Linked DNA regions of Homo sapiens. The protein of the gene in region 2 interacts with the protein of the main gene of each other region in a pairwise test. Each region holds a gene or a part of one and is shown on either strand. Other genes may lie near its edges.

Evidence for each region.
Region 1: the proteins of NUDT10 (region 2) and PDLIM7 interact in binary tests that used the Homo sapiens proteins (3 or more experiments, as listed by UniProt).

Annotation. Positions count from the first base shown.
Region 1 is NC_000005.10:177,482,827-177,487,657, forward strand, and holds the end of PDLIM7 (PDZ and LIM domain protein 7), read right to left. Parts: intron 1,365-4,831; coding exon 1,244-1,364; intron 1,157-1,243; coding exon 1,041-1,156; intron 905-1,040; coding exon 818-904; 3' UTR 568-817; downstream 1-567. UniProt on the Homo sapiens protein: May function as a scaffold on which the coordinated assembly of proteins can occur. May play a role as an adapter that, via its PDZ domain, localizes LIM-binding proteins to actin filaments of both skeletal muscle and nonmuscle tissues.
Region 2 is NC_000023.11:51,328,027-51,335,825, reverse strand, and holds the start of NUDT10 (diphosphoinositol polyphosphate phosphohydrolase 3-alpha), read right to left. Parts: upstream 3,005-7,799; 5' UTR 2,861-3,004; coding exon 2,367-2,860; intron 1-2,366. UniProt on the Homo sapiens protein: Cleaves a beta-phosphate from the diphosphate groups in PP-InsP5 (diphosphoinositol pentakisphosphate), suggesting that it may play a role in signal transduction.

The DNA.
Region 1 (4,831 bases), on a different chromosome or scaffold from region 2:
AACTACCCTTCTTTTTTTTTTTTTTTTTTTTTTTTTGAAGCAGGGTCTCGCTCTGCCATCTGCCACCCAGGCTCGCGCGCAGTGGTGTGATCTCAGCTCACTGCAACCTCCACTTCCCAGGTTCAAGTGATTTTCCCGCCTCAGCCTCCTGAGTGGCTGGGATTACAGGCATGCCCCACCACACTCGGCTAATTTTTGTATTTTTACTAGAGACGCTGTTTCACCGTGTTGGCCATGAGGTCTCGAACTCCTGACCTCAAGCGATCTGCCCACCTTGGCCTTCCAAAGTGCTGGGATCACAGGCATGAGCCACCATGCTAACTACCCTTCCTAACTACCCTTCTCTAACCTCCAAGCCAGGCCAGACCAGTGGCTCCCCTCATGTCTGTGGGCACCGGGCCTGGCACATGGGGTCTCGCCTGTACCTCCTCCACTAACCATGAGCCCGCCATGTCTGCATCACGAGGACCACCCAGATGGCCAGCCCAAGAAAACCATCTTACTCTCCACCCTGCCACGTGCCTCAAATTCTGCCCCTCCGGATGCACAGGGGAAGGGCACACAAGACACAGCTGGGTACAGGTTTATTGTGGCACTGGAGGTGAAAGGGGGCTGGTGTGGCCAGCACCGGTGTGCTGTGGTGGTGGAGGGAGTGGGGTGGGAGGATAAGGTGGGTGGGGCAGGGCCCAGGGAGCCCCAGGCTCGGGCCAGGAGCCAGGGTTAAGGCAACCATTGCCAGCCCTACCCAGAAATGCAGGGCCACGACTCCAGGCCCCTCAGGCTAGGGGCCACCGCGGCAGCTGTGGGCAGAAGGGGCTCACACATGAGAGAAGGCATGGCTCTTGCAGAGAGGCCTGTCCTTCTTGGAGTAGAAGGTCTTTCCTTCCAGGTTGATCTGACATATCTAAGGACAGCAAAGGCCCAGTCACATGGGGTTGGGGGCAGCAGGAGAGGCCCCTTCCCAACTTCTCCTGCATCTCCTGGGGAATGAACAGAGGGCCGGTGGGCTTGGGGCTCAGTTCGAGGGGCGGGGCTCTCACCGCACAGACGAAGCAGGTGTCATGCCAGCTGAAGCCCAGGGCCTCCAGGAAGCGGTCCCCAGCGTCGATCTTGAAGTCACAGCCATGGCATTTCGTGCCAAACATCTTCTCATAGTCTGAGAATGGGGGCAGAGAGAAAGAGGACCTGGATTCATGCCTGCCCCATGCACCATCCCTCCTCACCCTCACTGGCCAGTGGGTACCTCGCTCGCAATAGGGCACGCCCTCCTCCATGTAGAAGGCCCTGTTCCGGATGGGCGTCTTGCAGGCAGCACAGGTAAAGCAGTGCACGTGCCAGGTCATCTTCAGGGCGTGCATGATCTCCTGGAAGGAGGTCCCAGTCACTCGGCAGGCTCAGGCCCCTCCTGCCCTGCCCTGGGTCACGGGAACACAGGAGGGCTGGCCGCAAGCCCTGTTCCTTCTCGCGGTAAACACTACATCTAACTGTTCAGGACTCCCACACCTCCATCTCCAACTCCAAGGTCTCTGAGTGGACGACCACTGCGCCTTCAGACTTGCCATGTCCAGCACTCAGTTCCTGATTCCCTCACCCCAAACCTCTCCTCCCACAGCCATCCCCATCACGCGGATGGCAACTCCATTCTCCTGTCTGCTGCAGCCAAACACACCCTCCTCTCACACCCCACACCAGGTCCACCAGGAAATCCAGTGGGGCCCACCCCCAAGGCACATCCAGATTCTGAGTGCTTCTCACAGCCTCCCTGAAGTGAGGTAAGCCATGGCCATCTGGCCCGTGGGACCACATAACAACTGGCCTACAAGCTCCTCTCTCTGATCCCAGCTGCCACAGCGTGCCCCTGCAACCCAAGACAGGCCTTCTCCCCCTGCATGAAACTGTGTACTGCTTCCCATTGCTCCCAGCAAGAGCCAAGCCCCATGCAGAGGCTGGAGGCCAGCAGGTCTGACCTCGTTCCCAACCGTCTCCGCCACTGCTCTCCCTTGCGTTCTCACCTTGCCTCTGCACACTGGCCTCTTGCCTGAAACTGGCACACCAGGCACACTCCTGTCCTGGGCTTGACACCGGCTGTCCCCTCTGCCTGGACTGCTCTGCCCCAGATATCTCTAGGCTCACCCCTCACCCCCTTCAAGTTTCTGCTCGAATGCAGTCTTCTCCATGAGGGCCCACTCTGACCACACCAGCAGCAGCCAGCTGCCTTCCCTGCACCACGCACCCCAGCACTTGTCGCTCTGCTCTTTCCTGTTTTCCGTAACGTGATCTAACATTACTTCCAGGCAACCTACTTATTGCGCTTATTGCTTACAGTCTGCCTCTCCCCTCTTCTTCCAGCCAAAATGTAAGGCCCAGAAGGGCAGGAAGCATCAACTGTTTTGTTAGCTGATCTATCCCCACAGTGCCTGGCCCTTTGTGGGTGAGTCGACTGGCCTCCGCAGGAGGTGGGAAGGGGCAGAGGCACAAGGGGCTGAGCTCTCCCTGGGCTGGGCTGTTCATCCCTAGGACCCTCGGGGCCAGCCGGGGCCAGCCAGGGCCAGCAGTATTCACATCTGGAGCAGGCAGAGGGCAGCATGGGGCCTCGAGGCGGTATGAGGGTCCAAGATGTGTGGGTCTGGCCAGACCTTGACCTTCTCAAGTCTTGGTTTCTTCCCTTGTGAACTGGGAAGCTAATCCCAGCCTTGTGAGGCTGTTATGAGGATGGCCCTGAGTTTAAATCCAGGGATCCCAGATCCAATCCCTGCAAGGGCCAAGTGGGGACTGTGTCACACGGAGGAGGACCTCTTCTTCTGGGAGCAGTACTACTGGTTCATTCAGGAATGCCTGCCTGGCTCAGGCTGAAATCTAGGTGTTAAAGAGAAATCTGCTGGGCGCAGTGGCTCACGTCTGTAATCCCAGTGCTTTGGGAGGCCAAGGTGGGAGGATCGCTCGAGGCCAGGAGTTCGAGACCAGCCTGGGCAACATAGCAAAACCTCATCTCTACAAAAAGATTTAAAAATCTGCTGAGCATGCTGGTGGGCACCTCTAGTCCTAGCTATTTGGGAGGCTGAGGTGGGAGGATCCTCTGAGCCCAGGAGATCAAGGCTGCAGTGAGCAGTGATCATGCCACTGCACTCCAGCCTGGGCAACAGAGCAAGACCCTATCATTATACATAAAGAAATAAAAAGCAGGAGATCTCACTTTCCCTCTGCCTCCCAAGTAGCTGGGACCACAGGTGCATGCCACCACACTTGGCTAATTTTCTAATTTTTTTTTTTTTGTAGAAACAGGGGTCTTGCTATGGTGCCCATGCTGGTCTTGAACTCCTGGGCTCAAGCAATCCTCCCACCTTGGCCTCCCAAAGTGCTGGGATTACAGGCATGAGCCACTGCATCATGCAGGCAAATCTTCTGATTTTTTAAATTGTTTGCTACTGATTTTAAAATGAAACAGTGTGGGCCAAGCAAGACATAAGTGTGGGGGACATGTAGCCTTCGGATGGTGCATTTCTGCCCTCCACAACACCTGTACCCCATCTTACATCTACCTTGCAACCGTGCCGGCCCTAGCATAGTGCCACCCTTCTCTTCAGTGAGGCCCAGAGAGAGCAACTAGCCCCTGCTCACACAGCCAGTAGATCACAGAAATAGGTTTTCTGCCCATGTCTGGCTGGCTCTTCTCACTGTCTGGTGTTGCCTGTTTTAGAGGAGCAGACAAGGTCACAGTGAAGGAACTTGGGCTTTGAGCTGGTGGGAGAGGGGGCTCTACCAGGGGTGTGGGCTGGTAGGGCAGGAGCCCAAGGCTGGGAGGCAGATTTCTCTTTCTTTTTTTCTTTTTGAGACAAGAGTCTCGCTCTGTCGCCCAGGCTGGAGTGCAGTGGCGCGATCTCGGCTCACTGCAAGCTCTGCCTCCCAGGTTCACGCCATTCTCCTGCCTCAGCCTCCCGAGTAGCTGGGACTACTCCACCATGCCCGGCCAATTTTTTTGTATTTTTAGTAGAGATGGGGTTTCACCGTGTTAGCCAGGATGGTCTCAATCTCCTGACCTCGTGATCCGCCCATCTCGGCCTCCCAAAGTGCTGGGATTACAGGTGTGAGCCACCGTGCCTGGCCCTTTTTTTTTTTTTTTTTTTTTTTTTTTTTTTTTTTTGCTGTCTCCCAGGCTGGAAGGCAGTGGCACAATCTTGGCTCACTGCAACCTCCACCTCTCAAGATCAAGCGATTCTCCTGCCTCAGCCTCCCAAGTAGCTGGGACTACAGGTGCGCCAGCACACCCAGCTAATTTTTTTATTTTTAGTAGAGACAGGGTTTCACCATATTGGCCAGGCTGGTCTTGAACTCCTGACCTCAGGTGATCTGCCCACCTCGACCTCCCAAAGTGCTGGGATACAAGCATCAGCCACTGCATCGGCCACTCTCCCATTCTTGCCGACTGATGGAACCCCCAGTTTTGCTGGACACATGGGTGCCCAAAATAAAGACTATATTTCCCAGCCTCCGTTGCCACTGGGTGTGGTCATGTGACTGGGTTCTGACCAACAGGATGAAAGCAGAGGTTCAGGTGGCAGCATCCTCTAAGGATGGACGCCATGGGGCTCTGTCCCCTTTCTTCTCCTTCCGACTTCCTGCTGGCTGGAAGGTGAGCATTTTGGCGGAGGCTGAAGTGTCATCTTGCACCATGAGTGGTAAGTAAGCAGGTGCTGCCAACAGTCAAGCAACAAGGCGGAGCCTGGGTCCACCAGATCAGTCCCAGACCACCCACCCCGGGATGTTTTTAGATGAGAAATAAGCCACCATTATTTTGAGTTTCCCACTGCTCGTGGTCAAGGTAAACCTCACT
Region 2 (7,799 bases):
TGCTTCCACAAAAGGAACTCTGAAAAATAAAACTCTGGCCAGCTGTTAGTGCTGTAAGCTCTAATCTCCCTTTTCCCAGTCAACAACTATGGAGGGAGGACATGCTTTTTCTTACAATTGAACTCCACTTAAAGGCAAGTGAGACAAGGAGCAGCTCCAGCATCAGAGCCCTTTAAACCATCTATCCCACAAGGGCCCTCTAATGTTGCTGTTTCTTTACAAGCTCTTACACATACACACTTCAATTTTTATCAATTTTCTACAGGACTTAAAAATATTTATGGCCACCTTTCACCCCTTTCAGGGTTACTTCTTTCAAAGGTGACCTGATCAACAGAACATAGGTTTCTTAGAAAATATGTTAACCATCCAGAGCAAATTCTGTATCAAGCAACCAAACTTACCTTTACTCCAACATGTCGTCTTCAAATTTTTTTTAGAATAAGAAAAAGTAGGCACTTGTCCATTGGGGGACAGGGACGAGGGGGAAAATCAGTCTTTTTTTTTTTTTTTTTTTTTTGAGACGGTCGCCCAGGCTGGAGTGCAGTGGCACGATCTCGGCTCGCTGCAACCTCCGCCTCCCGGGATCAAGCGATTCTCCTACCTCAGCCTCCCGAGTAGCTGGGATTACAGGCGCACACCACGATGCCCAGCTAGTTTTTGTATTTTTAGTAGAGACGGGGTTTCACCATGCTGGCCAGGCTGATCTTGATCTCCTAACCTCGTTATCTGCCCGCCTCGGCCTTCCAAAGTGCTGGGATTACAGGCGTGAGCCACCGCGCCCGGTCCCCCAGCCCCCACCCATACTCTCTTCAAAAACTAGACATTTCCTCAACTGTCATGGGAGATGAAATCCAGAAGAGGAACCTAGAATTTACATAGCGAAACCCAAAATTTCTTAATAGAAAGTGCGTAACAGTGACCCATAGAACAAGACTCCATCTCAAAAAAAAAAGTTAAGGGACCCCAATACCTGTCAATAATGTTTAAGAGATATGACATAGTCTAGGTTGCTCTAGAAATTAGGAATGATCTTTTCATTCGAATACCCTCTTCACAAAATAGGTTTTCCTTCTACCTAATGTCAGACATGGCTGGGGGAACAGCGGAAGGTCCAGAAGAGAGATTTAGCTATTCTAGATGGGATTCCTGACTTCAAGCAAGTACTGAGGCAAACGTGAGAGCTTTTAATTTGGCACCCAGAAAAGGTGGTACTGTGAGACAAAACAATTACTCTCTATCATTGAGAGATTGTTCAGGAATCCTAATAGTTTGACAATTCTGTACCAGCTGAACATCGCTAGAGCTAACTCTGTTGGGATGTAATCACCACAAAAGATTCCATTCCTGTGGTTACTGGGAGTCAGGGAGGTTAAGCGGAATGTCACTACATTCAAATATGGAATGGAAACCACTTTCTTTCAAAAACAAACTTAAATCCAGAGAACCATGGTTCTTCTATGGTATCCAGTAAGGGGCAATGGGAGTTGGAAGTTGAGTATGGGAAATCAAATTCTGTGAATACAGTTTTTCTGATCAGATGCGTTTGGCTAGCAGATCCCCAGCAGCATCTATTCAGTAAGGTTAATCTACATGGGAAATAGCGATTTAAAGTCAGCAGTGAAAAATTACTTGTGAAAATTTTTTGAAAACCAAATGACCTACATAGAAATAGAAAAAGAAATTTCTGAAAGGGGCAAATGAGATACCACTTCAGAGGCTAGAGCGACTGTCGAGTGCAGAAAGAGCACAAGATGTAGGATTTCCTAATGTTTTTACGAATTCAAAACTGATTTTTTAAACCAACTCCCACCACAGAAGGCCTCCCTGACAACAAGGGCGAACGCTGTGAAGGAGAAAACAACTCAAGGGAAAAAAATACTAAAAGATGCCACACAACCAAGCTGGTCAGACTTTAAAGGCCTCCACTACCAAACAAACCACAAGGCTGGTATCAAAAATGTGCACGCACCCACGAATATGTGTGAAATATAAAAGAACCAAAAACATCACAGGGCGCACAGGCAGACACACACACTCCCCGCCCACCCCTCGCCCCCCACCCCCCCCCCCCCCGCCCAAAAGCAGGGTGAACAGTTACAGCACCTAAAACCCCAAGCGGCATAGGCTTCTCCGAAACATTTTACAGGGTAACCAAGAAGCGATTTTGAAAGCAACTGAAAAACGTGCCAACTGAAAACAGGGCCTGGCAACAGTTTGCAAGCGTGATTCAGAGGGTCTGCCAAGGAAACAAAAGCCTCCCTCCTGCCCATGAGACCGCACATGGTACGAGAGGTGCTCCAGGCGGGATGCATTTTAAGCAAGGCAGACAAACAGAAGTCTGTGCGGGCGCAAGCGGTACATACTAGGGATCGCTATCTGGCGAGGATGGGGCCATGGAGTTTCCATTGGTTGGGGAACCGCCCAGCTTTAGTTTCTCCAGATATTCGGCGTGCACGGGCTTGTGGCACTGGAGAACCTTGATGGCATCTTCGACTTTGAACCACTCTCGCTTCCTCCCAATGCTAACCGAATCTTCCCAATCCTCCAGCAGCTCCGTGACAGTCAGTACATACACGTACGTTCTGTGCTTGGGGTCCTGGTTCTGTTCGAAGACGCCCAGGAGCCGGCCTAACTTCCCCTTGACTCCCGCCTCTTCGTACACCTCTCGGACCGCCGCACCGCCCGGCTCCTCCTCGGGCTCCATGCCCCCGCCCGGCACGATCCAGCGGTCCGGGTACCGGCTGCTACTCACTAACAGGACCTCGTCCTCGCGCTCGCTCCGGAAGCACAGGCACGCCGCCCGCTTCTTGAACCCCTCGGGGTCGTAGGTCCGTGTCTGGTTGGGTTTGCACTTCATCCTCGAGGCAGCCTCCTCTCGCCTCTCGCTGCTGTGTGGGCCGCCGACGCAGCTGCTGCCGCTGCCGGGCAGCAGCCGAGGTGCTGGGAAGAGAAAGGGCCGAGGAGAGGGGCGGGGAGAGAGAGGCGCCTCCGTCTGCCGTCTGCCCCCGAGCCCGGGGAGCGGAGGGAGAGATGAAGCTGGGCGGGGCACGGGCGGAGGCGGGGGCAAGCGAGGCGTGTCAGTCAGCCAGTCCGCCAGTCCGATGGGCGGCCGGCCGAACCCGGGCCCGCCGGAGTGGAGGAGGCGCTGCTGCCCGCGAGCCCGCGACTCTCCACAGAGCCCACCCGCTTCTGCGAGGTGAAGCGCATTCTCGGGCGCGTCCGCGCTCCCGTTCACGTGCGCGTTCGCAGGGGAGGGCGTGGGCTGAGGGGCGAGGAACCGGGGCGAGGGGCCAGGGGCGGGGGTCTCCTGGCTCCCGCAGCGCGCAACGCCTGGGGCCCACTGCGCAGGCGCTTCGCACTCCTGGGGCCAGGAACCTCCTTGGCGCACAGCGAAATTCACCGCATTGTGACTTTGGCCAAGACTGCCTCCATGTGTGCCTTTGACCCAAACTCACTGTGGCACGGCAGGACGTTTCTCCTCTCACTCCCCACTGCGCTGCAGGAAACCCACAGGCAGTTGTTTCACACAAGACAGGGGCAAAGGCAGCGTCGTCATCATCCTCCCCCACTATCAACCATTCTGGCTTACTCATGGGACCTGGGCCCTAGTGTTGTCTGCACAACCCACGGGATTCTTGGCACAGTAGCCGGGCATCTTTGCTGAGTCACATGATGCAGTTTTATTTCTTCAACAGGTTCCCACCTTGCAGAGCATCTTGGCGCAGCCAGTAATTTAACGCTTTTCTTAAACCCCTGTTCACAACCTGCCTGACCTCCCTGCACCTCAGTTTCCTCATGGGTACACTCCTCGCCTCCGTGTTGCAGCCATTTGCACTTCGATGCAGTACACCTTAAAGACCAGAGCACCACCCATCTAGTAGTCCTGCGTTAAAGCCCAGAGACGTTCTCCTATTCTCCACACACTCCACCCTTCTCTATCTTTCTCTTTGATAAGCACCACTTGGTGTTTGGGAAACCATGCACATGGAGATCCCGTCCTATTTCACAATTTTATTTTATTTTATTTTTTGAGATGGAGTCTCACTCTGTCGCTCTGTCGCCCAGGCTGGAGTGCCGTGGCACGATCTTAGCTCACTGCAACCTTCGCCTCCTGGGTTCAAGCGATCCTCCTGCCTCAGCCTCCTGAGTAGCTGGGATTACAGGCGGGTGCCATCACGCCTGGCTAATTTTTGTAGCTTTAGAAGAGACGGGTTTCACCATGTTGGTCAGGCTGCTCTTGAACTCCTAACCTCGCGATCCGCCCACCTCGGCCTCCCAAAGTGTACTATTAACCACCACAAAACAAATAAAATACTAAGGGGTCCTAAAAATGTGGTTAGGACTTAGTAGTACAAAATGGTTGAACTTCTACTCAGAGCTTTGAAACATGATTTGAATGAATCACGAGACACTCTAGCAAAACTAGCAGACTAGTGGGGTGTCTGGGTTCGAGAGGGGCCAATCCAGGCTCCGGCCACAGGGCAGGGCTGCTTCACAATTGCCAGGTACTGTCTCCTTTGTCTCACAAGAAAGAGGTGCCATTTTCTAGTCTATTCCATCAGTATCAGTTCTACATCACACCGTGCCTCTGCAATAGGTCCCTTCCGGGGGCATACTTGTGGCAGGGAAGAGGAATAGGACATTATAACATGGAAAGAGGCACAGACTGAAACCCTACTGGAAAAGTCTGGATATGGAGACCCACAACTTAAAACAGGCTTAATACAATAGCAAGGGAATTTTTTAATTACCTTTTCCCCAAACTTTCACAGCTGACATAGTTTGGATACTTGTCCTTGCCCAAATCTCATGTTAAATTGTAATCCCCAATGGTGGAAGTGGGGCCTGGTGGGAGATGTTTGGATCATGAGGGCGGATCCCTCATGGCTTGGTGCTGTCTGTGTGATAGTGAGTGCTCACAAGATCTGGTGACTTAAAAGCAAGTGGCACCTTCCCCTGTCTTGCTCATGCTTTCGCTATGTGATGCATCTACTCCCCCTCTGCCTTCTGCCACCATTGTAAGCTTCCTGAGGCGACCCCAGAAGCTGAGCAACTGTTGGCACCATGCTTCCTGTAAAACCTGCAGAACCATGAGCCAATTAAACCTCTTTTCTTTGTAAATTACCCAGTCTCAGGTATTTCTTTATAGCAATGTGAGAATGGCCTAATAACTTTATTATTCATCTATAATATAGTAACAAGGCAAGAAAAGCTAAGACTTTTGTAACGATAGTAAAAATCCTTTTTAAGAGAACAGCATTCCTCTGTCTGGTTTTGCATATTTAAGTATTTCTCCAATGATGAGCAGTGTAATTCAGGAATCACTGTAGTAGTAGATTGTTACAGTGAAACTGCAATTTGTTCGTGGAAGCCTGTATCTCCTTCCACACTGTCATTGTTTCTGGTCTTGGCCATGTAATTTGTTGTGTCCAGTGGGACAATAACAAATGTGAACAGAAGTCAGCAGAGAACTGAAAGGTGCTTGCACACTGGGGTATCCTCTCTCTTTTCGCTCTTGAAACATTGTGACAGCAATGTGAGGAAGGCTGGCCAGGCTAGCTGGATGATGAGATACCTGTGGCAGATTCTTCCCTTTCACCCCAGCTGACAGTGAAACCGTTGCCCAACATATGGGTGAGGCCATCCTAGACCATTCGCCCACAAGCAGAACTACTTAGGTCATAAGAGAGCACTAGCTGAAGATGCATAACTAAGCCTAGCCATGAACAGCAAAAAAAAAAAAAAAAAAGCAAACAAACAAACAAGAAAACCCACTCAGATGGGACCAGCTGAAATTATTGACCTGCAGAATTGTGAGTAAAATAGTTTACTGTTTAAAGCATAAAATTTGGCAGCGCTTTGTTATGCATTAAAAACTAGCTGCTCCAACCATTGACATGATACATAAAAATCAACCAAAAACAATCAGAGAAAGACAAGATTGTTCGCTGTAGAAATGTAACATCTACTTAAAAATGCTGGCATTTCACTTTCCCTGGAGTCAGAAAGGGATGAAGTTAAGACATCTAACGTGTTGAGTACAGTCCCTGTGAGAGGTCCTGTGTTACGCCCTGCATTCTATTTAACTGTTATCTCATTAACTCATAGGGAGGGAGGCAGTTCATAAGTCCATTTTACAGAAGAGAAAATGAGGACTTAGAGTGGATTTTGTATTCGAGTTTAAGGCTTCATGTCTCCATACCCTGCACACTCAAAAAATCAACATGTCTTAAGAGAAGGATTCTTCTTATCCACAGCTATGGTTGTTGCGGCCTTTGTTGATGACATTCAGCATTGACTTCTTGGGTAAGGTATTCAGTAGTTAAGATTCAATGACTCCAGTGAAAGGTATGTTTCCATCGTGATGTTCTTCTTCTGGACAATAAGTGAAAAGAGCATGTGAGTACCTCTCTCACTCCCAGCAAATAATTGTTGTGTCACCTCCACATGTTTCTTCACGATTCGAGGCTTTGATTTCCCCTGCAAGACAAAATGCAATGAAGTGATACAGAAAAAAAGAAATTCTATGCTGTCATCACACTAGACCATGATGTTGATTTATGGATGGTCTGCTTTCTTATATGCACTTAATATTTTTGTACAAGCAAACCTGAAAAGTGTCAAAATCCCCTTTAACAGATTAACAGGCTGAGATGGGTTAAAGTGAGCAAGCCGGGAAGTGGTGGAGCTGGGATCCACACCCTGGTCTGTCTGAGTCCAGATGTAATCATCTTGCATTCACTATGGCATGTTTCCCTTATGTTAAGGGTTGCTGACATAGACAGTGCATGTCATTCCTTTTGGTATGGTCTTCCTCCTTTCTAGCTTTTTTCTGCCTGGAAGATCCAGGCACCCAAGAGAATGGAGCTTCCATGTAAATTTGCAGAATCCCTAGGATGAAAGCGGAGAGGATCTACCCTGAAACCAACAAGTCTAGGATGCACATCTCTGCCTTTTTTTCAGAATTAGGAAGGGGCAGGCAGATGGGCAATTGACAGGAATAGTAGAAGCATCCTCGGGGAAGTTGGCTACTTTACTTAGTGAGAAAGCAATGGAAAGTGACATTTGTAACTGAGTTTTAAGTGAAGTACAGTCCTAAGAGAGGAGCTCTGAAAAACAGCTGTTACCTGAGATTGGGAATGTTAAAGACCTTCTCAGAGCCTGACTGTACTCACAGCTGGACCTAGCTATCAGAAGAGGGACTGCAACATACCTGAGAAACTTTCAGAATACTTAACGGAAGCAGAGTCAGGGGAAGTGATTTTGATAGTAGTCCATGAGAAAAAAATACGGTGTTTTAAAATGCAAATGAACTAAAATTTAAATCCTGCTCTCTCAGTAGCTATGCAGCCTTAGGCGAGTTAATATCTTTGACCTTAGTATTTCTCAGGTGTAAAGAGGGATAATTACCTACTCAGAACTTCACCTCTCCCAAGAAAGCTTTCCTGACCATGTGCTGGCCCTTCCTTTACATTGGGATTAAAGTACCCCCCCCCGTTTTTCCAGGCTTTCTTGACTTTAATTCTGTCATAGCTCTAATTAAGAACCTCTGTAATGATCTGTCTGCAAGCTTGTGAGAAATTTGAGGACTGGGAACCAGCCTGAAACATGTCTGTTCCCCTCTGAGTCAACACAGTGCCTGGGATCTGGTGTCCAGTAGGGATTTAAAGCATATTGATTGAATGAGAAATGATGACAGGATCTACATGGATCACAAAGGATAGTTGTTATTTTACCTGTTAACTATTTAATAGCGAAATTAAATGAAATATGAATTAACCTAGGACCAGGGAAGG